Linked DNA regions of Homo sapiens: region 2 is linked to region 1. The links come from fine-mapping of genetic effects on gene expression. Tissue or cell type: blood mononuclear cells. Region 1 holds a variant in brackets; the other region holds the start of a gene. All regions are shown on one strand. Distances are from middle to middle.

Region 1 (16,252 bases):
CATACCAAGACAGGCCCAGGGAAATGCCTACAAAAAACATTGAGTTGCAATACAGAAGAGTCCTGAGCTTAGGGAACCCAAATATTTTATAATGGACAGCAAGAATGCCTGCCTTTTCTTTTCCTAAGGAGGAAAATACTATCATTATCTTCCAAGGCTGCTCACTAGATAAACATTCTTGAAAAGGTAGTCTAGAGTAACAGGCAGTCAGTGCTTTACTTGCAAGATATGCAGAAATGCAAGAAATCAATAAAGAGTTGTCTTCCAACTGTCTGTTTATCCCTGTCTACTTAACTGCTACCAAATACAACCCCCTGTAGCATTTTACCTTCTAATATATAAGCATTATTGTTGGCCAGGCACGGTGGCTCACACCTGTAATCCCAGCACTTTGGGAAGCCGAGGTGGGCGGATCACGAGGTCAGGAGTTCAAGACCAGCCTGACCAACATGGTGAAACTCTGTTTCTACTAAAAATACAAAAATTAGCTGGGCATGGTGGCACATGCCTGTAATCTCAGCTACCTGGGATGCTGAGGCAGGAGAATTGCTTGAACTGGGACCTGGGAGGCGGAGGCTGCAGTGAGCCAAGATCATGCCACTGTACTCCAGGCTGGGCTACATGCAGAACGAGACTCCGTCTCAAAAAAAAAAAAAAAAAAAGTATTATTATTAATAACAGAAGATGAAATCATGATTCACGAGCCATTTCTAAGAAACTTCACTCTTGTAAATAAGAGTTAGTTTTGATTACCAGAATTTTTTCTATGTGCTTTTAGACAATTTGAACAATCCTTTTATATTTTATATATAAATCATGCCTTGTCGAGTCCAGTCTTAATAACCAAATGCCTCTGCAATGAAGTTAGTCATCACCCAAAAAGCTTCAGAAATTAAATGAATCAAGTGAGTACTATAGAAAGGGTACATCCTAAAATAAAAGATAGTTGTCACAAGCCAAAGAAGATAAGGAAGTGTAACAGAATCACACACACACACACACCCACACAACGATATAGCTATAGTATTAGCTATAGCTATAGCTACAGACAGCTACTAGGGAAGGCTGAGGTGGGACAATCACTTGAGCCCAGAAGGCAGAGGTTGCAGTGAGCTATAATGGCGCCACTACACTGCAGCCTGGACAACAGAGGGAGACCCTGTCTCAAAAAAATAAAAATAAAAATAAGTAAAGTATAGCAACTTTAAAATTTCATCAAATTTTTCACTTCTCCCAACCTCCTCTCAAGCTATAACACAATCTTATGCCAGAATTAACCAAGGATACCAAAGTCCAAAACAGGGGTAGTGTGGTCTACCTCTGAAAAAGCAGTATGAAGTTATTATGTCACTACTTCATTTCAATCTTAGTTTTGTTTTGTTTTTTTTTAACTATGACAAAGCTAAAATATCATTATGAATTTCAAATGTGAGAAACATTAAGGATTCTAAGCTGTTTCTTATACTAAGGGCTTCTGCTTAGGAACAACAATTATTTAAAGCATTATGAACTAACAATCAGAAACTGAACTAGGATATTAAGGTGCACACTATAAGGAAAATACAAGATAATGCTAAAACTTCAGAAAAATAAATTTAAGAAAACTGGAATCCTTGCTATTTTTCCCTTCTTGGGCACTTGTTACTATCCCCTTCCAAAAACAAATCAGTTGGTGAGTGGATTTGTAGAAACCTAATCAAAGCTTAGAAGGTATGTCAGATTACGAAACCCAGCTGAAACCTTTTGAGCCTCTAAACCATGAAGCAACTAACCATTTGTACTTGCCTTAGAATAGCAGTGTCATGCCAGCTCTGGATTACCTACCTGCTACTACCAAACAGAAAAAAAAAAAAAAAAATTCTTATTTAAGCCACTGTTCATTTGGCTTTCTATTAAAACAGTAGATCTGTATCTGAATACATCGTTGAAACCCTTTCTGTGAAAAACTGAAGAAGCTAGTGGGGGAAGAAGACTCGAGATAAGAATAGGCTCATTATTCAAAGGCCAGCATGGCTAAAGCATAGTAAGCAATGAGGAGAACTATCTGAGATAAGGCTCTAGAGACAGTAGAGTCTGGATTTTATTCACTGTGAAAGAGGAAACCAATGAAAAGCCTATGCAAGGCAGGAACATGATCCACTTTATACTCGAAGACACATTACTAGTTGCTTTAAATGCATTATTACATAATGTAGTCATCACATAAACCCTATAAAGCAAGTAATTTTTCACTATAGCCCCATTTTCAAAATGAAGACACTAAGGCTCAGAGTAGTGAAGTAACATGCTGATTGCTCATTCTGCACCATCCACAAAAGCCTCTATGATATGATATTCCTTTAACATGTCAAGCAGATTTCCACATTTTTTTTCTTTTCTTTTTAGACACAGGGTCTCATTCTGTTGCCCAGTCAGGAGTGTGGTGGCAAGATCATAGTTCACTATAATCTCAAACTATTGGAAACAAGGGATCCTCAGCCTTACTCAGCCTCCCAAGTAGTAAGAACTATAGGCACGTGCCACCGGGCCTGGCTTTTTTTTTTTTTTTTTTTTTGTAGAAAAGTCTCACTATGTTGCCAAGGCTGGTTTTGAACTCCTGGCCTCAAGCAATCCTCCCTCCTCAGCCATCCAAAGTCCTAGGATTACAGCTGTGAGCCACCACACCCAGCCACCACAAGGTTTTTGTATCTGCTGTTCTTTGCCTAAAACACTCTTCCTTATGGTTCACTCTCTCACTTCTTGCAGGTTTCTTTGTTTAAATGCCATTTTATCAAATAGATCTTCCCTGACCATCCTAGCTACAAATAGCAAAATAGCAACTTGCCTCCTCCCATTCTTTTATTCATCTTTTTACCAACTACTTTTTTTTCCAAGACACTTAACACCTGACACACACATTTGTTTATATCCCCACATGTAAGTATAGTATATTATATCCCCAAATAGAAGCGCTCCATAAGCAGTTTGTTTTGTTCAGTGAGGTATTCCCAACACCTAGAAGAGTGCCTATCACAGGAGGTGCCTATCACAGTAGGTGCTCCTTAGACACTTAAGAATTGTGGACTGGCAGAGATAAGGAGCTAACTTTATCATCAAGCAAACAGACTCTTTATAGTATAATAAAGCAATAAAGGCATGAAGGCTTAATTCACTTCCCTGAAGACATAACTAACAAAGGAGTATTAGACTGAAGATCTTCCACTTCCAGAAACAACATAAGTTCTCATCAATGAACTACATAAATGAACCCAACTATAGACATAATAAATTGCCATCCCTATTATTTTTATTAAATGTTATAGTACCATTGTGTTAGTCCATTCTCACACTGCTATAAACAACTGCCCGAGACTGGGTGATTTATAAAAAGAGGTTTAACTGACTCACAGTTCCACATGGCTGAGAAGGCCTCAGGAAACTTACAATCATGGCAGAAGGCAAAGGGGAAGCAGGGACCTTCTTCACATGGTGGCAGGACAGAGAAGAGTGAGCAAGAGCAGGGAAAATTGCCTTATAAAACCACCAGAAGTGCTTTTTAAAGTCATTGTATCACCTTTTATCACTCACTTAGCATCATAAAACAAGCACAAAGAAAAACAAGTTGTGTTACTTAAGTGACACCATTCTCCTTTTCTTAGTTAGCTTCCAAGCAGATCAGCAATCTAAATTTGACTTTCAGTAATTCAATGGTAATAAAGTATTCCCTCCATCATTCAAGTTAGGTCCAACTCAGGTTATAAAAACTAGTCCCTTCAGACCAATTGCTTGTACATTTCTACAGGCACCTTTTTGGCAAACCCACATGGATTTTAAGAAATGGAGAATGAGGAGACAGGAAAATATTAATAAGATGTATCAAACTGTGACAATATGTGAAGAGTACTGTGTATATACAAACAGGAAACAATTGAAAGCCTTCAACATGTGTGGGTTGGGGGAGAGATAACTGAATTAACAGGCCATGTAGTAAAACTTAAAATCAAATCCAGTAGTCTTGAAGGTATAGTAATTGTTTAGTTTTGAAGGTATAGTAATTAAGTACTGCGCACTAAAAAAAACTGACCAAAAGGCCGGGTGCGGTGGCTCACGCCTGTAATCCCAGCACTTTGGGAAGCCGAGGCAGGCAGATCACGAGGTCAGGAGATCGAGACCATCCTGGCTAACACGGTGAAACCCCATCTCTACTAAATATACAAAAAATTAGCCAGGCATGGTGGTGGGCACCTGTAGTCCCAGCTACTCAGGCGGCTGAGGCAGGAGAATGGCGTGAACCCAGGAGGCGGAGCTTGCAGTGAGCCGAGATCGCGCCACTGCACTCCAGCCTGGGCAAGAGAGCAAGACTCCTTCTCAAAAAAAAAAAAAAAAAAAAACTGACCAAAAAATACACAGAAATTGACAAATCTGTTCCTTAAAATTTTTCTTTTCTAAACAAAAATTTTTGTTGTGGACTGTATCTGAGGCACTATATTCTCTAAGAAGAGAAAAAAAAACTGTACTCCTTCAGCTGAAATAACATTCTAATTTCTCTGATATTCACCCCCAATTAAACTAGGTGGTATCAGAAAATGAAAAGCACTTAATATATTTAAGAAAATACCATAGTGAAAAAAAATCACTATAAATTATCTATTTTAAGCAAAACTATTTGATGTTGCTCAAACAACATAGCAAAACTAGATCATTTCACTTTATTATTTGTTAAAAATCATCTCCCTTCGTCACACACTGAATCTATGAAGTAATTAATAATGAATACAATGAATGCTTATATGTATTAGGATCATGGCAAATCTATAAAGGCTGAAAGGCTTGGGTTCAGCCAATGAAGTTAATATTGTATTATAAGATTTCTAAAAATGTTATATCCACCTAGAAACTACGGCAGTATTGGATTTTTGTTTTAACCTGTCCGGACCCATTTCCCCTTCCTCTGTTAACATCCACCTTGATCTTCTTTTGGGAAAGGAACATCCCTCCTCCAACATATGCAATCTTGGTACTCCACGCTCTCCTAGCAAAAGGAGTGGACAAAAAAAAAAAGAGCCAGACCAATCAGTCCATGCCTGTCTCTCTCTCTCTGATAAATGTGAATCACAAGCAGAGTGATCACGTGAATGAAAAACAATCACAAAAAAAACTATCCTAATGGGGGCTCCACAAAGATTGTTGCTTTCTGCTCTCTAGATCCCTAAAGCTGTTCAAATGTCTACTATTTCTAAAACTCCATTTTTCATCTTGGAAGAAAATGAGCTTATCATCCTAGTAAATCATTTAAGTTACCCAAACCTTTCTATTACTTGAACCGAAAAACCCTAAATTGATATAGGTACTATTTAACACATTTGTAACCAAAATAGTCTACCTTTGAATAAGGAAATAAAATAAAAATTAACTTCAAAATATTTTTAAATGAATTTACAAAAGTAAAATCAATGTCAGACATAGAACATTTTAAAACACCATATATCCTATCATAAGAAAAAAATACAATAGCATAGTATTCATTTATGTGTTTCTTGCTAGGTTTTTAAACTCCATTACATAAGACCTATCCTATAACCATATGCAAGAACCAGGTTTTTTTTAAGACCAGGTTTTGATAATAATCATAAGGAGAAAAAAATGTTTACTCAGGAATGTAATCTCTTCTTCAATTTTCATTTGGATCCTACTACTCAAGGTGCCTTCTCTGGAGCTCCTGCTTCATTTCCTCTTACCCACTATCAAATGAAGGATTTGCGGTAAACTTCATGATTAGGACTAAGAAGAAAAACATTTCTAAAAATATCTATTTGAGCAGCTGACTGATGTTTCCATTTGTCTGACTGATCTTGCAATCCACTGAAGTCTTTATGAGGCAAACACAGGAGCAGACACAAACAAGTGATGACCAGCCCTCCAAAAGCACTTAACAACGATCAGTCTATATCAACAACTTAAAGGCGAGAAACTCAAGCGCTCAGAAATGAGATTATTAACCTCATCTCCACCTCATTACCTACCGGTTTTCCAAAATTCTAAGCTGTTATCAAGTGCAAAGCTTAGAAATGTCTTTCAAAGGACAAATGTGATTTCAGTAGGAAAAAAAATACATCTATATTCCTACTATAGCCTGGGACTTACTATTCATCAAAACAAGTTAATTCAAATGCATAACCAACATCTATAGTCATTTCCAGTAGGTGAGAAATGAGGCAAAATAAACAGAAGATAAAATCTCTATCTAGGAAAGCACACGATTTAATCGGAAAGACCAAAAATACACGTGAAATAAAACATTCATATATAATCAATATTATAATTGAATATGCTACATTTTACCTTTTCTCCTAATATTTTTACTGTAAACTAAAGTGGTTTAAGAAGGGGAAAATACCTGAGTGCTATTTTGAAACCAGGAACTGTATTCATTAATGAGATTTTTTAAATGTCCATTTATATGTAGTCAGAAACAAAATTAAATGCAATTTTTATCTAACATTTTTCTTCAATTCAACATGTTCCCAATTAACACACACTATAGTTTGGCAACTGCCATTACAGTACCTCAAATGTTCCTGCAAAAGACTGCTTCAGGCAAGGATAGGAATGTTTCTGTTAAAGAATGGGCGAAGAAGGAAAAGAAACACAATTTTAAATTGAAAAGTGTTACAATTTCATTTCCTGTCAAGTATCAGACGTGGTATTTAAACACAGGGCTTCTGGTACACACTTTTGTTGCTGCAACCCCAATTTACTGACCTTGTCAAAAATCATATACTATTGGAATCTAGAGTTGCTTACTACCAATAACGGGCTAAAGAAGAATACCAATTGCTGTCTAATTCCTTCCGACTAGCTGAAAGTACTTTGCTTCTTCCTTAATATATACAATATCTGCATTGGAAAATAACAAGCAGGAAGTCCCTGGTGGTGGCAACATCTTGGAAAGCAGAAACTCACAAAAAGAAACAAATGAAAAACAAAAATCAGCAACACATACACACAAGCAATGAGGTCAAGAGAGTAAACTATGCAAAGTTTTTTTACTATTTTCGAGATGATGTTGGTTTGGAAGATTTACACTACCTTCAAAACTTACAAAAACATTCAAAATAATGTGGTACTAGCATACCGCACATATATCAATGGAATAGAATAAGGAGTCTAGAAATGGACCCATAAACAGAGTCAATTAATTTTCAACAAAACTGCCAAGGAAACCCACTGGGAAAAAGAAAATACTTTCAGTAAAAACTGGATATTCATTAAAAACAACAAGAACAACCAAAACAGCCTGGCTTTTATACTAAACAAAAATTAACTCAAAATGAATCACAAATCTAAATACAAAAGCCAACATTATAAAACTTCTAGAATAAAAATGGGAAAATAAAAATTTGTAGACAAAAAAATTCTTAAGATATGCAAAAAATATAAACCATGAAAGAAAACAGATATGCTAAATTTCAAAAAATTAAATTACTTCTCTTTAAAAAGTTTTTAAAAAAGGCAAGACATAAACTGTTAGAAAATATGCACAACACATATATTAGACAAATGACTCAGATTCTGACTATATAAAGAACCTTCAATAAGAAATCAATAAGAAAACAATTTTTTAAATGAATAAAAGATTTAAACAATTTACAAAAAAAAATACAAATGGCTAATAAATCCAAGAAAAGATGCTTACTACCACAGTCATCAGCGAAACGCAAATGAAAAACCACAATGAGATACTATTACACAACCACTAGAATGTTAATTAAATTTTTTTAACTGAAAATGTAAGTGTTGATGAGAAGGGGAGCAACTGGAACTCTCATACATTGCTGGTGAGATGCAAAATGGTACAGCTACTCTTAAGTATTTACCAAAGAAAAATGGAAACATGTCCACTCAAAAATTTGTACATGGATGTTCACAGTAGCTTCATTTACAATAACCGAAAATTACAAACAAGTCAAATGTCTATCAAAAGGTGAATGGATAAACAAATTGGATATTCATTACAATACTGTAATAGTATTCCTATACCATGGAATACTATCCCAAAATAAAAAGGAATAATCTCAAAAATATGCAGGGCAAAATAAACCAGACAAGAGTACATACTCTATGATTCCGTTCATATGAAATCTTAGAACAGACAAAAGCAATCCACAGTAACAGAACCCGAATCAGTCATTGTCTGACATAGAGTAGGAAAGGGAAAGATTAAGTTCAAAGGGCACAAGAGAATTTTGGGGACTGATGGAAAGTTCTATATCTGTATCTATTGTGGTAGCAGTAACATGGGTGTATACATCTGTCAAAATGAATCAAACTATGTACTTAAAATGGTTTCATTTTATTCAGGTGTAAATTATACCTGAATAAAGTAGTTTGGGTTTTTTTTAGTATTTTTTTTAAGTGATATTGGGGGGGTGTGAGGTGGAAAGCAGGAAAGACTACAGAAGTAGCGAAAGGCAAAATGATGCTGTTTAAGTAACAATGTTTAAAATCAGAAAAAATGTAAAAAATCTAGCACAACTAGGCC[T/G]GGTGTGGTGGCTCACACTTGTAATCCTAGCGCTTTGGGAAGGCGAGTCGGGCAGATCACCTGAGGTCAAAAGTTAGAGACCTGCCTGGCCAACATGGTGAAACTAAAAATACCAAATACTAAATACTAAAATACTAAATATTAAATACTAAAAATACCAAAAAAAAAATCAAGCCCAACTAAAACCAAGAGTGTAACTGAGATAATTAATTTTGTCTGTAAAAATGGGAATAACTCACAGGATAGCTGTAAAAAATAGATGAGATAGTTAATCTTATCACTGTACTACTTAACACTATGTATGCTGGTAAATTACAGCAACACAATTCATATTAGTTGAATTTGTATCTACCCATGGTAAGTGTTAAGGTGAAGCAAAGAAAATAAGTAAAAGTAACATGGAATAAATCCTGAAAGAATTTCTAGAGGAAATTATCTTAAGATGCCACTTTTGAAAAGAGAAAAGGAAATGGGTGGAAAGGAAGGAGAGACCTACAGGTGGAGGGAATGGTAATGTGCAGAAGAACGGAGGCGGAAAGGAGCAAGTCATATGTATGAGATGGCAAAATTAGCATGCCTGTGGCAGCAAATCCATATATAGGAGTATCAAAAAAAAAAAAAAAAAAACGAGTAATCTTCCCATCTGACGCGAACACTCATTTAAATGTTACAGTAGGACCCAGAAATGTAACTTCATCCAGTGGATGCTATGATACATGATAAATATATTCAACCATTTAAAACAGAGAAAAATAAAAAGTTCTATCTTTGTGTTTAAAAAATGAGAATGCTTACAATTACCAGCTTCAGTCTCTTGGAGGTTAGCCACAGTTCTTCCCAAAAGAAAAAAAAATTATAATTATTAAAATATAATTATAGCTAAGCAACATATGGACTTGCTGTGCAGCTGTCCCTGTGCTTCTGAAACTATGAAAGCCTTTACATTTTGCAAAGTCTGATTTCTATAAATGACTGGTATTTGGAAAATAAGATACAAGAAAATCTGCCCAAGTAACTAATCAGCTACAACAAGAATTATTTCATAGCATACTACTTAAAAGGTATCAAGACACTAAAATTGTATTTCAACAGACATAGTATGACCAAGATCAGGATTCCTGGGCATTTATAACTTTAAACTGTTTTTACATTTATACATTTAAACGTGTTTAATTAAAGAATGCAGGGTTACCACTGTTATGATGTGCAAACTAACTTAAATCTTAAGATTTTGCTTATAGAACAGTGTTTCATATACAGAAAAGTATTATTTTCAATGTCTTATCACTGAGAAGAGATAACAAAGATAATAGTTATAGTAATAACTTGAGCAAATTAAGTTCTCTGAATGAGAGAAATCTACAGAAATGTACGATGAGAGAGATTCACAATGAGAAATAAAATATTAAAGGACAACAGGCCAGGCACGGTGGCTCACACCTGTAATCCCAACACTTTGGGAGGCTGAGGCAGGTGGATAACTTAAGGTCAGGAGTTCAAGACCAGCCTGGTTAACATGGTAAAACCCCGTCTCCACTAAAGATAGAAAAATTAGCTGGGCATGGTGGTGGGTGCCTGTAATCCCAGCTACTCAGGAGGCTGAGGCATGAGAATCACTTGATCCCAGGAAGCAGAGGTTGCAGTGAGCTGAGATCGTGCCACTGCACTCCAGCCTGGGCAACAGAGCAAGACTCCATGTCTAAAAAATAAATAAATAAAATAAAATAAATAAAGACAGTAATACTGACCTTTAAACGCAGTAGCACCAATGGAGATTGCTGAGGACAACAAAGTTACAGGGTTAAATTAATTTAAGTCTCTTTATTGAGAAAGGCTGTTATATAGTGGCAGTCAGCTAACTAACAAGGTTTTATCTGCTCCATCTACATCAAGGCCATACCAATTAGAGACCTTGACTCAGAGTAGAGAATGTAGAGGTTAAAGAATAACCTTAACGACTTTTGCTTTTTGAACCCATATATTATACATCAATGTAGTCACTAAAATATTTACAAACACATAAAAATTTGATGTGTTATATTGCTCAGAATCATGAATAATTTTTCTTTTCATGATAGTATTTTACACTATTAAATACTTTTTAAACCACTAACTATATATTCACTAAAAGTATATATTTATTCCTATTTTAAGAAACACAAATTGGAAAACAATTCTTAATAATAAGATTAGCAATAAAACACTAGTCAAGACCTGTCACTAACTTTTGTTTTTTTGTTGAAAGAAGATTTTAGGAATGTGACACAGCTATAGATTATTTTTAAATGAGGATTATGAAATATTTTAAATCAAACACCTGTAAGAATGATTAAAGGGATGACAGGCAACATGAGAGCAAGCCCTTTAAGTATAGTTCAAAGGCTTTATCATTGTAAACAAACTTATTTAAAGGTAAGAAATTTGTCTATGGGACATCTATATTATTCAGAACTTTGAGACCCAGTGCAGTGGCTCACACCTGTAATCCCAGCACTTTGGGAGGCCAAGGCAGGCAGATCACTAGAGGTCAGGAGTTTGAGACCAGCCTGGCCAACACGGTGAAATCCCATCTCTACTAAAAATACAAACATTAGCCGGCTGTGGTGGCACATGTCTGTAGTCCCAGCTACTCGGGAGGCTGAGGCAGGAGGCTGAACCTGGGAGGCAGAGGCTGCAGTGAGCCAAGATCACAACACTGCACTCCAGCCTGGGTGACACACCAAGACTCCATCTCAAAAAAAAAGAAAAAAAGAAAAAAGATTAGAACTTCGAGGATGAAGTTCAAAATTGAAAGGAATAAAAAAGGAATGAGAAGTCCTAAGAGCCTGCTATTAAATAACTGGGGGGGGGGAGGGGGAGGGTAAGTATCCTGAATCTCTTACTTAGGGTAGGAAGTATATTTTGAACCACCTACCTTAAAACCATGCCACCCAACAGCCACACAGAGAAAAAAAAAAGACAGATATCAACTTTTTTAAAAGTAAATTTAAATTAAAGCTCTGCCTAGGGAAGCCATTGTTGGAGTCATTCATTTTCTCAATATTCTTCTCTATGCGTATTTATGTCTCTGTTTTAATAAAACCCTATGCAGAAAAAATAAGTAAAATTTTTAAGTGTTTAAGCAAAAAGTCAAAAAGGGCAAAGAAATTTAAACATATGTAAAGGTAACAAGAAAATATTAGAAAAATAAATGCCAAAGTTTAAGAATAAGAGTGTACAAAATGTCAATGTACTAAGAAGACTATGGACAAAGATAAAAACAGATAAAAATAAAAGGAAATACAAATGAAAAACTAAAACAAAATAACATCAGCAACTTAAGACACTGAAAGCAAGAAAACAAAAGCCATCTTTCAATCAACGTAATATTAATAATGTAGCAATGTTAATTCAAAAAATGAACACCTTTACCCAAACACTCTTCAAAGACTGCTTTTCCCTCCTAAGATTTTTCATGAAAACTTTAGTTAGCAAATAATCTCACGATAAAAAGCCGAAGAGTGAAGAGCACAGCTCCTGGTCTCATACCAATGGCTACTATCCCTAGTGCTCCGGCTTTTCTAAGACACTTATACAAGAAGATAGCACGATCCCTCAAAGAATGCTGAGCAGGCCGTAAGTGCCATTTGTCTAACTTCCCATGAGCAGTCAACGGGTACAACCAAACATAGACCCATACACATCCCACATCCCCTAAAAAAGTAGTCTGGATTTTCAGTCAGAAAACAGTCGGCTTCAAGGAAGCTTCTTTTTTTAGGTCATTGTTATCTTAAAAGCAGTAGGCATGCCTGCTGAGTATACCAGTAAATGATAAGAAATCATCTTTTTGAATCTTGTTTCTAACATCCTTCCTCCCCCGATCATTGTGTTTTTAACTTGGCAAAGCTTATCCCCTTAAGTGTTCACAGCTAGATTGAGATCATTACTTTTCATATAAAATTCTAGAAAACATCTGCACTTTGAAATCCTGGCATTCCTTAACAGCATTCTAGAGCTATCAAGACACTTCAAGTCAACCTCTCAATAACCATAAATTTTAGAGATCACAAAATGAACACAAAAGGGTTAAGTGACTACTTGCCCAAGATCCCAGGGCAAGAGACCAGAACCAAGGTCTCTTGAGTCTAAGTCTAAGGTTGTAAGAATAAAATACACGCAATCAATGGGAGGAATTATTAGGAATCTGACTTTTAGATTTAAGATGTATTGATTGGTAGAAAAACTGCAAAACAACATTACAATAGAATACGAGTTCTGTTTTTAAAAAAATTATATAGTCGTGTGTGTGTGTGTGTGTGTGTGTGTGTGTGTGTGTGTGTACAGAGAGAGAAATCTAGAAGAATAACACCAAACTGCTAACAAGGTGGGCTATTTCAGACATAAAGTGGTGGCAACAGAAGCCAACTTAATGAGTTTTTATAGCTGCTGGAATTTATATTGAGCACACATTGATATAATAATCATATTTTTTCTTTAAAAAAAAAAAAACTTCAGACAAGCAAACACATTTCAAGCAGAAAATTATCCCAAAATGGCTTAAGTCTCTCTCACACACACATACACATGCACACAACTCCAAATATATTATTTGTAATTGAGATTAACCTTGAAATTACTTTTCACATCAAATGTGGTCTTCCCTTAAGAAGAGCAAAACCTTAACATATTAGAATTATTCTAACAAGTTACAGCAATCAAGAAAAGTAAAAGTCTGAATTATAAAATGCATTTAAAAACATTTTTCCTTTAGATACATAGTAGTAACAGAAAAAGAAAACACAGCTAGCAAATAATCTCAGGGTAGACCAAAAAGAGCAGAGCTCCTGATCTTTCATACCAACGGCTACTATCCCTAGTGCCCCAGCTTCTCTAAGACACATAACGCAAGAAGATGGCACAATTCCTTACACCATAATGGTAAATCTACAGTAGCAATAGAAAGTATTTGTAATAAATAAGTATTTGCAATTTAAAAATTATTTAGATGTGGTCAGGCGCGGTGGCTCATGTCTGTAATCCCAGCACTTTAGGAGGCCGAGGCAGGTGGATCACATAAGGCCAGCAGTTTGAGACCAGCCTGGCCAATACTGTGAACCCCATCTCCACTAAAAACACAAAAATTAGTCAGGTGTGGTGGTGCACGTCTGTAATCCAGGCTACTCAAGAGGCTGAGGCACAAGAATCGCTTGAACCCAGGAGGCAGAGGTTGCGGTGAGTCGACATTGTGCCACTGCACTCCAGCCTGGGTGACACAGAGCAAGACTGTCTCAAAAAATAATAATAATAATAATTAAATAATAAAAATTATTTAGATGTAAATGCATACTGCTTCAACAGTTTTTACCACATTAAAAATAGGCCATAGGCCAGTTGAGGTGGCTCACACCTGTAATCCCAGCACTTTGGGATACCAAGGTGGGCAGATCACCTGAGGTCAGGAGTTCAAGACCAACCTGGCCAACATGGCGAAACCCTGTCTCTACTAAAAATACAAAAATTAGCCAGGCTTGGTGGTGGGTGCCTGTAATCCCAGCTATTCGAGAGGCTGAGGCAGGGAGAATTGTTTGAACCCGGGAGGTGGAGGCTGCAGTGAGCTGAGATCGTGCCACTGCACTCCAGCCTGGGCAACATGACAAGACTCTGTCTCAAAAAATAAAAATAAATAAAAATAAATAAAAGTAGGCCGGGTGCAGTGGCTCACGCCTGCAATCCCAGCACTTTGGGAGGCCAAGGCGGGAGGATCACCTGAGGTTGGGAGTTCGAGACCCACCTGGCCAACCTGGAGAAACCCTGTTTCTACTAAAAATACAAAATTAGCCAGGCGTGGTGGCACATGCCTGTAATCCCAGCTACACGGGAGGCTGAGGCAGGAGAATCGCTTGAACCCAGAAGGCAGAGGTTGTGGTGAGCCAAGATCATGCCATTGCACCCCAGCCTGGGAAACAAGAGCGAAACTCCATCTCAAAAAAATAAAAATAAACATAAAAAAATAAAGCATAATGCTTACTTCACCACTCCCTCCCTTTAAAGACTCTCCAGTACTTTTAGTTCTTCTGTCTCTTTAACCAATCCTTTGACTCTTTCACTAGCTCTCCCTCTATCTCAGGGTTTCATTCTAGTAGAGATGCTTCTCTTCATCACACTCTCCACTACCACCTTCAGTGCAGGTACTGTCCATATCACCAGTCTAGAACTTTCTCTTGCATTCAAAAACCATATATCTAATGACCTAGAGCAGAGTTTTAAAAACTTTAGGATGCATCACAATCATCTGGAGGGCTTGCTCCAAAACAGATTTCTGACACCCACCCCCAAAGTGTCTGATTCTACAGGTCTGGGGTGGAGTCCAATAATCTGCATTTCTACTAAGTTCCCAAGTGATGTACTTTTAGAACCACTGGCCTACAGGATTCTCCCCTTGGATGAACCACAGGTACTCTAAACTGTCTCCCAGCATCTACCCTCATCACCCTCCAAACCACTACTCACTTAGCATCCAGAGAGATCAATCTAAACCTGACCATTTCACTCCTTTGTTTAAAATTCCCTAATAGTTTTCAAGAGACTTGAAGACAAAAAGCAAAATCCTTAACATGGTCTCAGGCCTCACATGATCCAGTCCCTACCTCCTATACCACAATGTTATCTTTCTCATATTTTTTAAAACACTCCAGTCACAGTGAACTCTTTCAGTTCTTAGCAAAGCCCAAGTTCCTTGATCTTCCAAAATCTTTAAACAAGATGTTCTGCGAGAAATATTCTTTTCTCCTTCAGATCATCACCTTCTTTGGCTCCCCTCCCCGACTAGGTGTGCATATTCTTATATTGCCCTATATTTCTTCCTCTCAGCACTTCCCACAATGGTAATTACATAGTGAATTGTGCAATTAGGAGTTTACTGTCGATCTTCTACCACTTCCCATACAAAAGCTCGAAGAGGTCAGCAAGCACATCTGCCTAGCTCCTACTGAATTTTCAGCCGCTTACATAGTAACTTGCACTGAAATCTATTGAATTAATGGTCTTGTAACATTAAATTATTCTGGAACCTCAAAGGGGAAAGTATTATTAAAAAGGTCCTAGAGGCATTTTTCAGTATCCTTTAATTTTTACAAATGAGGACACTTCATTAAAGTCCACCATCTGGGAGTTTAAAACAAGAAAAATAATACCTTCAAAATAGAAAATGAAATCTCCCTATCACAAGCTCCTCTGCAACAAGATATATAAATATGTTATCATACATATTACATATATATTTCTTCCTCTCAGCACTTCCCACAATGGTAATTACATAGTGAATTGTGCAATTAGGAGTTTACTGTCGATTTTCTACCACTCCCCACACAAGTTTATTATCTACACCAAGTATAGCACTGATATCCAAAAGCCATTCAGTCACATATAATGCTAAGATAATTTTTGCAAAAAAATTTAACTTAGATATAAGCCTGCATCAAAGAGTGCACTCCAATGGGGTAGCTGCCTGGAATTAAACTTAGCCATGGATAACCACAAACTACATAACTATTAATACAACTAATAATTAAATAAGCTAAGATAATTATTCACAAAAAGTTTAACTTACATGTAAGTCTGCATCAAAGAGTATACTCTGACAGGGTAGCTGCCCAGAATTAAACCTAGCTAGGGATAACCACAAATTACATAATAAATATTCATATAAACCAGAATTAAATTACCATTCAAATCTATGTAAATATTGTTCTA
Region 2 (16,252 bases), 25 kb after region 1:
CTACTAACTTCTATTTCCTTCACTAGTCATATGTGAGAACATCCAGATCTCTTTCAGACCATGTAAGAACCATGGAAAACTCACAGAGTGCTATCTCTGGCCCCCTCTCTGCTTAAATATGCCATTTTCTTCCCTTTTGGCCACCCCAAGTCAGCATAGGGCCAGTGCAATAGGCTAGTAAGTGGCTGTACCAGTTCTGAACTTTGGCAGTCTGGCTCCAGGGTTCGTGCTATTCTGCCTCTCCAGATTTCTAAAATAGGTGATAAGACAGAGCACTTCCATTACTACCAATGGATATTTGTAAAGCACCTACATCTTGCAAAACAGCCTAGAACTATTACAAACTCCACACTATGATGCACAGCACTGCTTTTCTTTACTTCCAAATTGCTGATCTTACAAGTTATTATAATCATAACAATGCACAAAATTACACACTAAGCAAAGCTAGTCTCCAGAAGTCCCTCATCCTACTCTCCACTTGAACAATGTACCTGTGCCCTCACATCCAAAGCACCCCACCTCATTACTCTACCCGGTAATAATGTTACTTAGATTGAACTTCTCTCTCTCCAGATCTACCATACTTCCATCCCATCAAAATATACCAACATAGATTCCATAATTTCCACATGGGCCCCAGCCTTCCTTGTAAAAAATTATGTAATCTGACAAACTATTCCTGCTAATATGTAGGCATTTGGCAGCCAAAAAGCAAAAATTACCTTACTGGTGGTCATCTCAACAGGACAGATTTCAACTGTACAGATCTGTGTCCCTCAAATATCACTAAATAGGCCTGGCATGGCAGCTCACATCTATAATCCCAGCACTTTGGGAGACCAAGGTGGGAGAATCATTTGAGGCTAGGGGTTCAAGACCAAGCTGGGCAACATAGTGAGACTCTGTTTCTAAAAAAAAAAAAAAAAACTTAAAAATTAGCCAGGTGTGATGGTATTCGCCTGTAGTCCCAGCTACTTGGGAGGCAGAGACAGGAGGATCACTTGAGCCTGGGAGGTCGAGGCTGCAGTGAGCCATGGTAGTGAGTGCCACTGCACTCCAGCCTAGGTGACAGCTCAAGACCCTGTATCAGAAGAAAAAAAAAAAAGGCCAGAGGAGGTAGCTCACGCCTGTAATCTCAACACTTTGGGAGGACGAGGCAGGTGGATCACTTTACGTCAGGAGTTCGAGAACAGCCTGGCCAATATGGTGAAACCCCATCTCTACTAAAAATACAAAAAATTAGCTGGGCATGGTGGCATGCACCCGTAATCCCAGCTACTCAGGAGGCTCAGGCATGAGAATCACTTGAAACCGGGAGGCAGAGGTTGCAGTGAGCCAAGATCACACTACTGCACTCCAGCCTAGGTGACACAGTGAGACTCTATCTCAAAAAAAAAAAAAAAAAAACACTAAAAAAAAATGCATACCAATTCTGTGAATCAGCCTTATTCTTTAAAACTATTTTTTAATTATAACAACTTAGCTTTAAATACTGTTATCTATTATGTTCTTTAATTTCCAGTTACTCCGAAATTCTCTGAAATTCCCCAGTGAGAAAATGGCAACTGGATGAACAATAAAATAAATATTTGCTTTACTCTAAGTATTTTTAAGATTTAAAAATAGGATGTCAGTCAAATACAAGTAAAATGAGAGAAAAAAAATCAAGGCTATATTCCATCTTCTTATAAAGTAAAGTGCATTTTGTAAATGACACAACTAAAACAGACTCAGGAAGATCACAAGGTCAAGACGTATCAAGAGGAGCAACTGCAAATAAATTATACAAGGCAGTATATAATATGATGGTTAAAAGGATAGGCTCCAAAGTCAAAGGTCAGGTTAAACCTCAAGTTTAAATCCTTTTAGTAGGCTCTACCACCTACTACTTAACTTCTCTGTGCCTCAGGTTTAGTTCAAATCCTGGCTCCACCACTTATTTAATCTGTCAGTTGCTCAGGTTTAAAAAAAAGAAAATAGCCTGATTGCGGGGTGGTTGTCAGGATCAAATGTGATGACATGTCAAGTACTTCTAGAGTAGTACAGTACCTGGTATATAGCAGTTGACGCACATTAGCTATTAATATGACCTATAACAATTTCCCTCTGAATCTATCAAGTTTTCAAAAACTCTAAATCAAAAAGCTTCTCCTTTTTATTTGAAAAAAGTCAAGCTCTGAAACCATTTCCTCTTTTTTTCAGTCCTTTTTGAATATGGAAATTAGTAGGTAACTGGCTTATCATTTGATGACTCTTCTTAGTCTTTGTATAATAAAAAGGCTCAAGACTCTTCTTAGTCTTTTTATAATAAAATTCTCTTCCAAATATTATACAAAGGACAGACTGCTCCATGGATCAAAAACACTACAAAGAGTTCACAAAGTATAATGAAATTCTGAGATTCATAAATGAACAGCTACTGGCACAAAAAGCTTAGATAAGAAATAATGCAGATGTCTGTTTGTTTGCTCAAGAAATACTGAATTTTATAATAAAACACAGATGGTAGAGATCTTCATGGCTTATAGTCACATCACTAAAAACAGAAAATATTTTTGGTAAATTTTTTCTTAACAACCAGAAAACCCCTTATTTCATCACAACAATGAATAGATAAATGACATTACAGGCAAAGACAATTTCTTCAAAAACAAATTACGTAGAGAAAAAAAGCTTAAAGGCTCAGATTTTCAGCTACACATATCCCTTACTTTGAGCTTCAAAAATTTGAGGCTTCTAGCACTCCTTGTGGTCTGTAACATTAAGCAGTAATACAATTAGGCCTCATTTCTACCAGAAAACATTAAACTGACTGAAAGAAAATTATCTAGAATTTTGATTCTGATCAATTTAAACATAATGCCATGAGTCATCTAGATGAGTCAAGCAAATATTAGAGTTCATGATAAACGAATCAAAATATGTTTTAAAGATCTGCAGACAAACGTTTTAATAATTTTGTATTTGCTGAAGTCCTCCTATGTGTGACACATTGAGGTAGGCACATTCATATTGAGGTATGCACTTTCACATGCATTATATAACTTTGTTCTCCCAACGATCATGGATTATTATCCTGATTTTACAAATGAGAAAACTAAGACCAAGTGATTGGCCGATGGAAACGACGCTTGTATAAGATTCAGTCAGAACACCAATTCAAATTTTCTGACCCTTATCGTACTTCCAAAACTCAAGTACTGTCAATCTCTGCTGTTGCAAAGCAAGTTAATCTTTTTATTTAGGGAGAGGTGAAAATAGAGATGGGAGAATAAAAATTCTTCATAATGTTACAAAAAAAGACTTACTGTGCTTTATCTGACATAATTTATTCAGTCTGACTTAAATGCTTTGCTGCACGTTGTCTACCCCCTTAGACACTGCTTATCTTCAGACACACAGCCCACACCAAAACCTAACTCAAGAATCACCTCCTCCAAGAAAGTTTCCCAGATTAAATGACCTGTTCCCCTTCTCCCAAGCTAACATCCTTCCTTTATCATTTCGCTGCTTGCATTTAGTTTGGACTACATTATCAGATACTCCTTTTGTTCTCCAGTCATATATCTGGAAGTAGACTTTTTTCATTCATTAACTATTGAACATTTGGAGATTCAATGGTGAGCAAAACAGACAAGGTCCTTGCTATCATGGAGAATTTACATTATCTGGATCTTCGACAAAGGTAAAAATAACAGGGTATAAGAATATGATGCTCTAGGACTAGGATTTCTTCCCTATAAGGTCTCCGAAAATAGCTCTCTCCCTTGCAAGCTTGATAACACTTTTCAGGAAGAAAAATTCCTTCTATCACGCCTTCCACATGAGAATTTTATGACTTTGTGAGGATATGTGAGGGATGGGGACCAAGGTGGGAAGAAAGATCTAAAATCTCTCAGGGGTTTCCCACATACTGCCATGAAATATGCACACAACATGAGTCTAGACATCTCTTCCTGTGTCTCATCACAAGGAAGCTATACTTTGGCCACAACTGCTCCAGTCAAGCACTTCTACTAATCTCCTTGTACCCAGCCACCTTCACTAAAAATTGTATATTTCTCAGAGGCTTTTTGTTTTTTTGGTGTTTTTTGAGACTGAGTCTTGCTCTATCGCCCAGGCTGGAGTGCAATGGCATGATCTTGGCTCGTTGCAATCTCTGTCTCCTGGGTTCATGCGATTCTCCTGCCTCAGCCTCCCAAGTAGCTGGGATTACAGGCACACACTGCCACGCCCAGCTAATTTTTTTGTATTTTTAGTAGAGACGGGGTTTCACCATGTTGGCCAGGCGGGTCTTGAACTTCTGACCTCATGATCTGCCCACCTCAGCCTCCCAAAGTGCTAGCATTACAGGCGTGAGCCACCGGGCCTGGCCTCTCAAAGGCTTTTTTATTCAAGTTGTGTTTCTGTCTTATTTGCAGGTCATTATTTGTAAGATTAAGGCAGGACCTATGTCCTCTTTGAATTGCCTGATGCTCCAAGAACATTGCTATAAATGTTTTTAACTTTCAATATAATACAAACATTACAACATGACATTTCAGGCATTGTTATTAGGATAATATTAGGATAAAAGTTTTCCAAATTAATATTAGAAAACTAGATCTATGTACTGTATCAATTCTTTGTCTTTAATGCCTTAATTCAAGTAATCTACTTTTGAAGGATTATTTACAAACCAAAGCCAAGTTGAAATGTACTAACACTGGTTAAAATTCTGCAATTCATACTTTTAAACAAAAGATCCGCCAGACACAGTGGCTCATGACTGTAATCCCAGCACTTTGGGAGGCTGAGGCGGGCGGATCTTGAGGCCAGGAGTTGGAGACCAGCCTGGCCAACATGGTGAAACCCCATCTCTAATAAAAATACAAAAATTAGCCTGGCATGGTGGCACGCACCTGTAATCCCAGCTACTCAGGAGGCTGAAGCATAAGAATCTCTTGAACCCAGGTGGCAGAAGCTGCAGTGAGCCAAGTTGCACCACTGCACTCCAGCCTGGGATACAGAGTGAGACAGTCTTAAAAAAAAAAAAAAAAAAAATCCTTTTGTAATGCATATTTTACAAATTCATAATTTCATCATTTTTCTTAAAGCAAACTAAAACATAAATTCATTATACACAATTGTAAATTTATCCCCAAAGTGTTTTCTAAGGCTTCCAATTTTTAAATGAACCAAGGAACTGAATATTGACAAATGTATAAGTACCCTGAATGTGTTATAAAAAACATATTTGACTGTCTTTAAAATGCAGTAACATTCTAAGGAAAATACAGTAGCATCTTTCCACAGATCAGAGATTCAATAACTATTATGATTCAATCAAAGAGAAATAAACCATGGCCATTTTTAATTAAACAGGCATTTCTAAGCACCTGTGTACACGGTATTGCTGTTCAAACGGTTGACATGGAATGTGACCGCAATAACTTGATGTCCATAATTAAAGACCCAAAAGGTAGCTTAAGTTTCATCTATTTCCTTTCTCAGCCCTTTGAGCAGGTATATTATAGTCACTCCATACACGGTTAATATTAAAAAAAAATAAAAGTAACAAACATTTGAAATTAGTTGTACTTTTATAGAGAACAGTTTTAAATTGCATGGCCTTACTTTTCCTATTCCAACCTATTTTATAAAACTAGCATGATCTTAATAATTTCACTGCAAAACAGGTTCTAGCAAGCATAGAAACTGATCATAGCCTCTCAGCAAAATCAAGTTTAGATGAAACTCTAGGAAATTAGCAAAATTTAACAATCAATTCACCCACGATTCTCCACAATTCTTGCTCTCTCTAGATACGAAGGGAGGCAAAAACTGTTTTAAAGGATTATTTCAAAAGCAGCACTAATTTTGGGAAAAACTTAACTGCCATGCAGGAGACACTGTATTACTACTCAGACGTCATTTAAGTCTTCTAGCAGCAGAAAGGCAAAAACATCATTAAATTTTTTATTTAATGCATATATACTTACATTATCAGTTAAAGTTTACCCATCTGTTTACGTTGTCCAAGTTACCTATTATTTCAGAAAGCATTTAAATAAAATGAAATTAGGTTACGTTCTGCAACGCAGATGTGTCTCATAAAGAAGAGTGTTAAATGACTTTTGTGAATGGAAAATCTGCATATACTGTTGCTTCGCCTCAGCCAGTCTTGAGTGGGTGGTTCAATGAACCTAAAGCATGCTGCCTGTGAAGCTCCTTGGAACCTGATTCCACTCTTGAGAGAGGGCTTAGAAACAAACATTAAATTTAAAAGCACAGCAAAGGCTTGGCTTTCCTCCTACGTTACAAGAAGGCCGGGAGAACTGAGGCTTAGAGGAACAACACCGTGTCGCTTGGCTCTGCAAAGGCGGGTGCGGTCTGCGGTGCGCGGCACAGCCTTCTCTGGGGCTGTCACAGGAAAGAAGGAGCCTCGCCTTAACCGCACCGAGCGACAAAGCGCCAGCTCTCCTGGGCGCGGGGGCTCCCAACGAGGCCCATGCCATCAACCTATCAAACTTCAGGAGGGACAGACACCCGGGGCGGTCGAAATGCTCCAACAGCCTCCCACCCCCGTTCCCCTGCCGCGGCTTTTGTAAGGCTGCAGATGCACCTACTGTGGGCCCCTAAACACTCCACCCTGCCAGCCTTTCCAATCCCCCTACTCCAAAAGGGAACAAAGGAGCCAAAGAACTCCTCGGCGGGGGTGGCCAGGAGTCCCCGACAGCCCGAGCTCAGAACGTGGCAATAAGGGTGCGCAGTCGCCCTGAGGGGTGCGAACCCAGCACCCCAACCTCAGGAATGGAGCAACACTCACCCGTGCGGAGCTCCCAGGGAGGCGGGACGCAAGGAGCCGGTTCCTCCGAGGTCGCCGCGGCGCCGGGGTCCGAGGCCCCGTAAGCGTCTAGTCAGACCCCAACTTCTCTCGGCCGCTGTCGTCGGCGGCAGCTGGGGCGCGAGCCTGGACGAAGGGCGCTGCCCAGCGGCCGCGGAGGCACTGCCGGCTCAGCCCCCGAGCGGGGCGGGAACTTTCGGCCCCGAGGTCCACCAGCCCGGGCGGACCCCCACCTTCCCTCAGTCGGCTTGCTACCGGCAGCGGCTACTGCGGCGTCCAAAGCTAACACTACAGCCGCCGCCTGGCCAGGAGCGCGTCGCGGCCTAATGTTGTCATCCGCCGCGTCGCCGCCTTTCTGGGCACCCAGAACCGCGAAGATCCTTCACATTCTAGTGCCCTCCCCCTGCCCCGCCCGCCCCCCGGATCACGGGCTTCGGCCACGCCCTCTTCCCGTCACGTGACGGTGCGCGGAGGCGGTGGTGGAGTTGCTTCCCCTGCTAGGCGGGCTCGAACCGGGCGGGAGTCACTGTCCACCTTGCTTCGCCAGGGTGTTATCGCCAGCCAGTCCCCTTCCGCATGCCCAAGGGCAGCCTCAGGAAGCGAGCCCACCACCGTCGGCCCAGCGCCTGTTGATCGGCCAGGCCTTCTGGGCCGGTCATACTGGGCCCTTCCTAACCTGAGGAGATTGCACAGTAGGGCTCCCTGGTCTGGTCAGGGCTCAGTTAGGACCCCTCTCCAGCCTTAGGCTTGGTGAAAGCTTTAGCGAAACAGAAAAAAGAACGCATCGTGGTGTAGAGTGTATGGCCTAAGAAGCATTCGGTAACTAAACTACTTGTTCCTATTTCTAGTGGCACATTAACCGTGGCATTTAATTTACTGCTTTCCTCATTAGAGGTTTTTTTTTTTTTGAGGAAACGGTGTATTTCAATCATGCTGGGATGAAAACAGCCTAGCAAACTTATTTTTGTTCCTTGTTATGTTCAGGATCCTGCTGCCAGTTTTACAGTCATTAAGTTTTACAGTGTGTTAGGTTGGTGACAGTTTAAACGGGTACGCAGGAATTTGACAGTTTGTTCCATTTTTTAAAATAAAGCCTAATTCTTGATTTTTTTTCTAATGCCTTAATTTTTTTTTCCTAATTCCTTAACTCTAGGACTTAACCTTTTGCTTTCTTTTTTAGCCATGATCCGAAGAACCCTCTAGCCGCCTAATGAAATCCTAACTATACAGAAGTAAGGGAGGTAGAATAAAGATCATACTCAAACCCTGATCACAATGAAGGCAAATGAGAAAGCTTTCTGTAATAATTAAATTGGGGTCATAACTCATTTTCCCTTGTAGCCCAGAACTAAGGATTTTTTTCTTAAGCTATTCTCATCTCATTACATTTTCTTAACAAGAAATCAGAAGGCATTCTGATAAGCTGGATACATTGAAATGAATAAGCAATAGAGTTTGGCCTATATAATTATTATTAATATATTTCATAGCAGCTCTAAAAAAATCATAGACTTACATTGTTTTATGTTACCCAAGAAAGAAAACAAAGGCTGCCAATGAAACTATGCCATACCGCTGATATGTAAGGCACCTTTAAGCCACATCTTTTTCCTTTTTTTTTTGAGACAGGGTCTCACTCTGTCTCCCAGACTGGAGTGCAGAGGCGCAATCTCGGCCCACTGCAATTTCCGCCTCCCGGTTCAAGCGATTCTCCTCCCTTAGCCTCCCAAGGAGCTGAGATTACAGGCATGCGCCACCATGCCCAGCTAATTTTTGTATTTTTAGTAGAGAGGAGGTTTCACCATTTTGGCAAGGCTGGTGTTGAACTCGTGACCTCAAATGATTCACCCGCCTCGACCTCCCAAAATGCTGGGATTACAGGCATGAGCCACCGCGCCCGGCCTGAGACACATCTTGAATTCAGAGATGTAAACATGTCAGAAACAACGAGTCTTAGAATCTCTGAGATATTGTCATGAACTGGGAAACAACGAGTCTTAGAATCTCTGAGATATTGTCATGAACTGGGAAACAACGAGTCTTAGAATCTCTGAGATATTGTCATGAACTGGTGTTCCAAAGAGGAAAAGATTCTACCAGGTTCTGTTCTGAAGCCTGAGAGACTGTAGTACAAATAAATGTGAAGGAAGTTTATTATTCTGTGACATTATTTCAGCAAAGCTAGTAACTTTGGAGTTTGTTAACAGATTAACTTGTCTCCTGTTTTCTAGAGGCATGTTTTTCAACCTGCAACTCAAAAATCAATTTCATTTTTATATGAAATAGGCTAGGATGTAATACAATATAAAATACCAGAGTGCATAATGTCTAGTAAGGGCAAAAATTGCTTCCTGAAACTTTTTGTTTCAAATATGGTGGAAGGTGAGAGTATGTCCTATGTTGTGATTTAAACAATTTCTTACTGTGAGTTGCAATCAAATAGATTTGGAAAAGAATGTTCCTAGAGCATAGATAATATGCAAAATACACCATCTGGACCCCGTTTTTCTGGTACTTTTATTTTACTTTGGAAACTGAGACTAAAGATTAGAAAAAGGTGGCAAATTGCCTTGCCTAATTCTCTTCTGCCTCAGCCCCAATTTCATACATTGGCTTTTGAAAATTTGATCATTTGTTGGAAAAAGCAATGTACTGGAAGCAAGGAAGCCTAGGTTACAGACTTAGCTAATGAGATGTATGACTAGATAAATTACTCCCTGCATTTCAAGTTCCAATCAAGTAGGACCACATGCTGTTTGAGAAATGATACTAAACCACCTTTTTTTTTTCCCGGTGGATGGCAATCACATTGGAAACAAACAGACACGGTATACTCAGGATTATGCAAATTACTGACAGCCTACGTTTAACTTCTTTCAGCTCCACTCAAAAAAAAGAAAGTCCTAATGCAAGTAATTGAAAGTGAAGATATTGCAAAACAAATGTAAGTATATCTTTCACAATCTTCTCTACTTTGATTATCACTAGTATAATAGTTACTTGTCATGAATAACTAATGATTTTGACATACTTAACAACTGATTGCAACACAAAAATATATTAATCCACTACAGTTGAAAAATCATTTTTTCAGATCCTTTCAAATCTGATATTGTGATTCCAGGAATGATAATTCAATCTAGCATTTTCAATGTAATGACAACATAAACAGAAACTAATATGTGATCCTGCACTGTAACTGAAAAATATTCAGTAACTCCCAGAGATGCCCTGCAAGTTTGCTACTCTTACAATGATTTTAAGAATGACATTTTGAAATAAAGCTTTTTTATTATAACGATCCGATTTTAACTCCAATGAGAATTCATCTCTTTTGCCTACTGCTTTATTAATTATACATTTCTAAGAATGGGAAGTTCTTTCCAAATTAGTTTAAGCACTGACAGGCTTGACAGCCTTTCCCACAGTATATTTCAACCCTGACCTAGAATGACAGAGATGTTGCTTGAGGTTGTTTGCTTTTTTCCATTTGGCTTATCCCATTAGACAATTATGTTGCTGACAATTACTAATCAGGATTCTAGACTAAAATCCTCATTTTCTGGAAGAGAATTTAGATTAAGAGCAACCTCAGCCATAAATAAGGTATTCAACACAGCTTTGAAGACTTGTATTCTTGTTGGTCATGTGATTTGCTTTAGCCAGTGCTTTGTGAGCAGATGTTAAATGCTAAATCAAAGCAGAGGCTTTAAATTTGATTGCAAAATTCAGGTCAATCTCTTACTCTTGTGCCACCTGCCATGAGAAAGGTATGTTCCAGATAAGATCTCAGAATAAGAAAATAGATGGAGCAGACCTGAAACTCTCACCCTGTACAGAACTGAAGCAACTGACTTGCAGCTCCTGACATACGGCTACTGATGTGAAACAAGAGTAAAACAAAAATATTTGTTGTTGTGAATCACAAATATTTTTGAGATTGTTTGTTGCGTAGCATAATCTTGCAAATCATCTAAAGTGAATTTGAGCCAACAAACTCATGAGTCAAAGGCTAAATGTACTGTGGAACAATAATATTTGTCTATTTAATAAAATAAATAACAGACATCTACAAACTAGTCAACCAGCTATTTGGTAAATATCCACCTAAAATTTATGTTAAGAAGCAGTCTTTATAAAATCTGTAAATTTGCATGCAAAATGTTTGCATGTAAGATATTTACATACTGATTTTAAATATTTCTGTTTAGTATTATTTGTCTTAAATATCCCTTGAGGAAAATTTGGATAGTAAAGTATAAAGAGAATATAGGATTCTGTTTCTAGAAATATCAAGGACTAGTTCACACTTGTCACACTGAAAACAAAATCCCTGGAAAAAACATTTTTTAAATCTTATTAAATATATTGATTAACTGACAATAGGGTAAGAAATTATTAAGTTAAAAAACTAAATGAAGGCAGGAACCTAGAGTTTAGCAGAGTCAGCCAACTTTTATCTCAAGGGCATGTGCTAAACCCAGTTACTAGGAGCATTGGTTTTCGTGACCTTGTAAGAAAGACACAAAACCCATTACCTGCATTATACACACACACACACACACACACACACACACACACACACAAACAACTGCAATTCCAAGGATTATTAATTTGATGTAAGGATATACTAGAAATAAACTTGCTGCTTACTAGCATAGGCACCCATCCCCCAGAATCTACAAAGAAAATTAGCCGTCTTAAACCTTGGCACCTGGTGGACAGGGGAAAAGCAAAATCGTATCTGAGAATTTGGAACTGCAATCCAATTCTCACACAAAAACGTAGCTTGAATTCATACTAGCTGGGTGGTCCCCAAAAACTTCAGGCTAATAATTAAGATTTTTTTTTTTTTTTTTTTTTAGACAGGGATTCTCTGTCGCCCTGGCTGGAGTGCAGTGGCATGATCTCAGCTCACTGCAACCTCCGCCTCCCAGGTTCAAGCAATTCTCCTGCCTCACCCTCCCGAGTAGCTGGGACTACAGGCACGTGCCACCACGCCCAGCTAATTTTTTTATTTTTAGTAGAGACAGGGGTTTCACCATGTTGGCTAGGCTGGTCTCGAACTCCTGACCTCGGGTAATCCGCCCACCTCCGCCTCCCAAAGTGCTGGGATTATAGGCATGAGCCACTGTACCTAGGCGTAATTATGAATTTTTGACTGATAATGCTCTCAGAAACCTGGCAGAAGCAAATACCAATCCTCTCTGGAGGAACCCACCTTCATCTTAAGCCATAAAGAATGACTATAAATAAAATTTTAAGGAAAATGAGCAGCTCACATTTAAAAAAAAATAACAAGCACAGAATAAGACACCATTCGTGAGAAACAGTACAGACTTAAGACAGCACAAACAAATTTTAAAAGACTTCAGATCCTGGATTTACAAGTCACGGACTGGGCCAGGTGTGGTGGCTCATGCCTGTAATCCCAGCACTTTGGAAGGTCAAGGCAGGCAGATCACTTGAGGTCAGGTGTTTGAGCCCAGCCTAGCCAACATGGTTAAACCCCCATCTCTACTAAAAATACAAAAATTTCGCCTGTAATCCCAGCTACTGGGAAGGCTGAGGCAGGAGAATCGCTTGAACCCGGGAGGTGAAGGTTGCAGTGAGCCAAGATCGCGCCACTGCACTCCGGCCTGGGCGACAGTGAGACTCCACCTCAAAAAAAAAAAAAAAAGGGGTCACAGACTGTAAATAACAATATTAAATATGAGTAAAGGAATAAAAGACAAGTTTGAAAATATGTGCAGAGAACAAAAAACTAAAGTAGGAATGAAGATTTTGAAAAAAGCAAATAGAACTAAAAGAGTTGAAAAACATAAATGATTAGAATAAAAACTCAGTGGACAAATTTAGTAGTTCATTTGACACAGCAGAAATACAAGCCAATGAAATGGAAGATAAAGATGAAGTTAAATGCAATAAAAAAAGAAAACATAAATTAAAAATATAAAAGAGACTTTAAGTGACATGGAGGACATTGTAAACAGCTCTAAAATCTAATTATGACTTCAGATGAAAAGGAAAGAGCCAGTGGGCCAGAGGCAGTATTTGACAAGATAATGGTTGTGAACTTTCCAGAACTGATGAAAGACTCCAACTCACAGACTTAAGAAGCCTCCCAAATCCCAAGCAAGTTAAAGAATAATAAAACCACGCTGAGATATATCACAGTGAAACTGTAGAACACCAAAAACAAAAAAGAAAACCTTAAAAGCAACAAAGAAAAAATATAGTTAATCTTCAAAGTGTCAGGTAAATGACTTTTCATCAGAACCAGTGAAAAACAGAAGACAGTGGAATAATATCTTCAGTGGACTAAAAGAAAATGACTGTCAGCCTAGAATTCAGTACCCAGTGAAAAAATTATTTCAAGAATGAGGCCAAAATAAAGGAATTTTCCGGCAAGCAAAAGCAGAATTTGCCGCTAATAGAGTCTCGCTAAAGGAAAGTCTAAAGAAATTTCTTTTTTCAGACAAAAAGAAAATGATCCCAGGCCAGGCACAGTGGCTCACGCCTGTAAATCACAGCACTTTGGGAGGCTGAGGCAGGAGGATCACAGGAGTTTGAGACCAGCCTGGACAACATATTGAGATTTTATCTCTACAAAAAATTTAAAAGTTAGCTGGGCATGGTAATGTGTGCCTGTGGTCCTGACCCGGGAGGCTGAGGTAGGAGGACTGCTTGAGCCCGGGAGATCAAGGCTGCAGTGAGACATGATCACACCATTATACTCCAGCCTGGGTAATAGAGAGAGATCCTGTCTCAAAAAAAAAAAAAAGAAGAAGAAGAAGAAAATCAACTCAAATGGAAGGTCTGAGAGTTGATAATAAACGAAGAGCATTAAGAGTGGTAGATATTTGCCTAAATCTAAATACAATTGACAATGCAAACAAACAGTAAGTATTGTTAAAATTATTTTAATAAGTTTTTTTAAAGAAAAAAAAATCACATATCTAACATTAGAAATAGACCCAACCAAATTTGCATTTTATGCCTACTATTAGACCTCATTAGACAAAGTATTTTACAAACTAGTACTATTATCTCCATCTGATACATACCTTTTATTTTAAAAGCAAAAACATGATACATTTCTTCTTTTCTCATCCATAGAGGCAAATTGTATTAATATATTATTGGTATTCTCTTTTTAAATAACAGCATTTTAAGTGTTTTTCTTCACAATGACATTCTTATTTCAAATTTACATAATGTACCAGTGAAGATGATGTATTACATAATTAGACTAAGAAAGTAGCATATATTTAGGAGATCATGATTTAGAGTAATAAAAAGCAGAATTATATACTATTTTCACTTAACTATGAAGTATTAATGATTCCCTCCATAGAAGTCTATAAATGAAAGTTCATCATAACAAATTATATAATTATGTATTCACAGGTTAAAGACAATTAAGTCTTATTGAAATGCTCTGCCTACCCTTTCCACCCACGTTGCCTATTCAAAATTATGTGCATGCTATGACTTTTAACACCATCTTGGGAAATAGCTAGAAATTTGTGCGCAGGTATAAGGATTGACTACTGAGTTTTAACTCAATTCAGAGGACATCCTAAATTCAAAATAAATTCTAATAATAATAAGAACCCATTTCTGATAGCTACTTAGACTACAAATTTCCAATTGTAAATGTGTTTTTCATTTCAATTTTAGGAGAGTGTTTTTTTTTTAAGTTTATCATGACTATTTAAACATGGGAAGCTTAGAACACATAATCCCTTAGATTTCCAAATCTGTAAGTATAATGCAAATGAATTATACCTTACTTTTTTTAAACCAGAACCTTTCTCTTTTTTCCCCTCAACCACGAGATCATTCAAAGTATATTTACTTATATACTACTTTGTTTTTGTTTTAGAATCAGGGTCTCACTCTGTCACCCAGGCTGAAGTGCAGTGGCGTGCATTACAGCCTCGAACTCCTGGGTTCAAGTGATCTCCCTCCTCAGCCTCCTGAGTCACTGGGATTACAGGCATGAACCACCACACCCTAGAATATTTTCTTGATAAAACCAAATCTATAATTTTATAGAAGACTGTCCAAATGACTTTTATTTATATCTCTTAATATATGTAAAAGTGTATACATTACTAGTATTCCTATTAGCTACTAGATTGCTAGCTAATTACAAGATTATTCCAGTTAGCTTTGTCCAGCCTGTATTTATACAAGTATATGAAACTCTTGAGAAGTCACAGTAATTAAATTTTCATAAACCAGGTTGTATATTAATTCTTTCAATTTAATAAGTTATCAGTTTGTACTGGGTCCTACACTTACTTACAAAAAAAAATTATCAAGTATCTGTATGTTGTTCTACCTCTTTCCTGAAATGAGTGTAAAGCTAACAAGAGTCCTCACCCTATAAACCAGCAGTATTTCAAAACTCATTGTTACTGTTCTGGGAGTGAAGGTGCCGTATATTCTTACCGCATTATCAGGTAGCAACCATCTACTCAATCCTCCCAACCACAGGTACTACCTAGATGTCTTTTGCCAGATCTCCCAGGTATTTAGTGCCTCTTTTACCTCTACAGAACACTGGTACCCAGAAGTGATATGGTGGAAAAAGAAGGCGCCTACCCTATATTCCAATAAAGTCTGTCCACTACATTCCTGTCACGTTCATTCCTCTGTTCTAGGCCCTGTTGATATTCTCCCCTAGTTGTTTCCAGTCCATTTCTATGGGAGCCTTACTTTTGTCTGGTATTCTTACATGCACAGCTGAGACCAGACTCCCAGTCTCATTCCCTTAATTGTATCCTTTAATCCTTAATCCCTGTAATATCCTCCTGGAACTGGGATTGATATACCTCTATTGAAGACTTTATCTTTGAATGTCAGCTCACTTCCAGACATGGCCACCAACTCCACCCCATGATCGCACATTGTTATACTCCCCACTTCCTTCTGCAGTCAGCAAATAGACTTGGACCTGACATTCTTTGTGTCCTAAGCCCCCCACCCCTTCCTTAAGTTACTAAAGTAGTACACCAAAAGAATACAATTATCTGAACTGAGGGCGGGGAAAATTCCAGAGAAAAATGACCTTCGTGCAACAAACAAAGGCAAGAGAGTAAAAGGGAGGGCACTGTTAGAGATTTAAAATAGACTTACCAGATATATCAACCAAGTGCAATACGTGGATCTTTACCTTTATCAGATTCCAATTCAAACAACTTATAAAAAGATATAATGAGACAATCAGGAAAATTTTAATACCAACTACATATTACAGGATATTAAGGAATTATTGTTAATTGTCTTAGTTGTGATAATGGTACATGATTATGGTTTTTGTTTTTTTAATGTCTCATTTCCTAAAGACATTCTAAAATGTTACTGGGTCCCTGCTTTAGGAAAGAAAAAAAAAGAAGACTTTCAGAGTATGTC

The links. PIP is the estimated chance that this variant, and not a neighbour inherited with it, causes the effect.
Region 2: OSBPL8 starts here. The variant in region 1 is fine-mapped to the expression of OSBPL8 in blood mononuclear cells (TOPMed, PIP above 0.99). The same link has a PIP of 0.9 or more in monocytes and whole blood.

What each region holds. Positions count from the first base shown.
Region 1 is chr12:76,527,688-76,543,939 of GRCh38, forward strand. The region is part of intron 1 of OSBPL8 (oxysterol binding protein like 8); the gene reads right to left. Among named protein-coding and RNA genes, the nearest start is that of OSBPL8, 24 kb to the right of the region's middle. RefSeq lists an enhancer at 3,309-4,037. The variant T/G (reference allele first, on the strand shown) is at 8,522.
Region 2 is chr12:76,552,586-76,568,837 of GRCh38, forward strand. OSBPL8 (oxysterol binding protein like 8) reads right to left here and starts at 7,186. Exons shown (of 24, transcript NM_020841.5): 1 at 6,812-7,186. LOC105369850 (a long non-coding RNA gene) reads left to right here and starts at 7,317. Exons shown (of 4, transcript NR_188081.1): 1 at 7,317-7,648; 2 at 9,710-9,773. RefSeq lists an enhancer at 6,107-6,416 and a silencer at 6,827-7,016.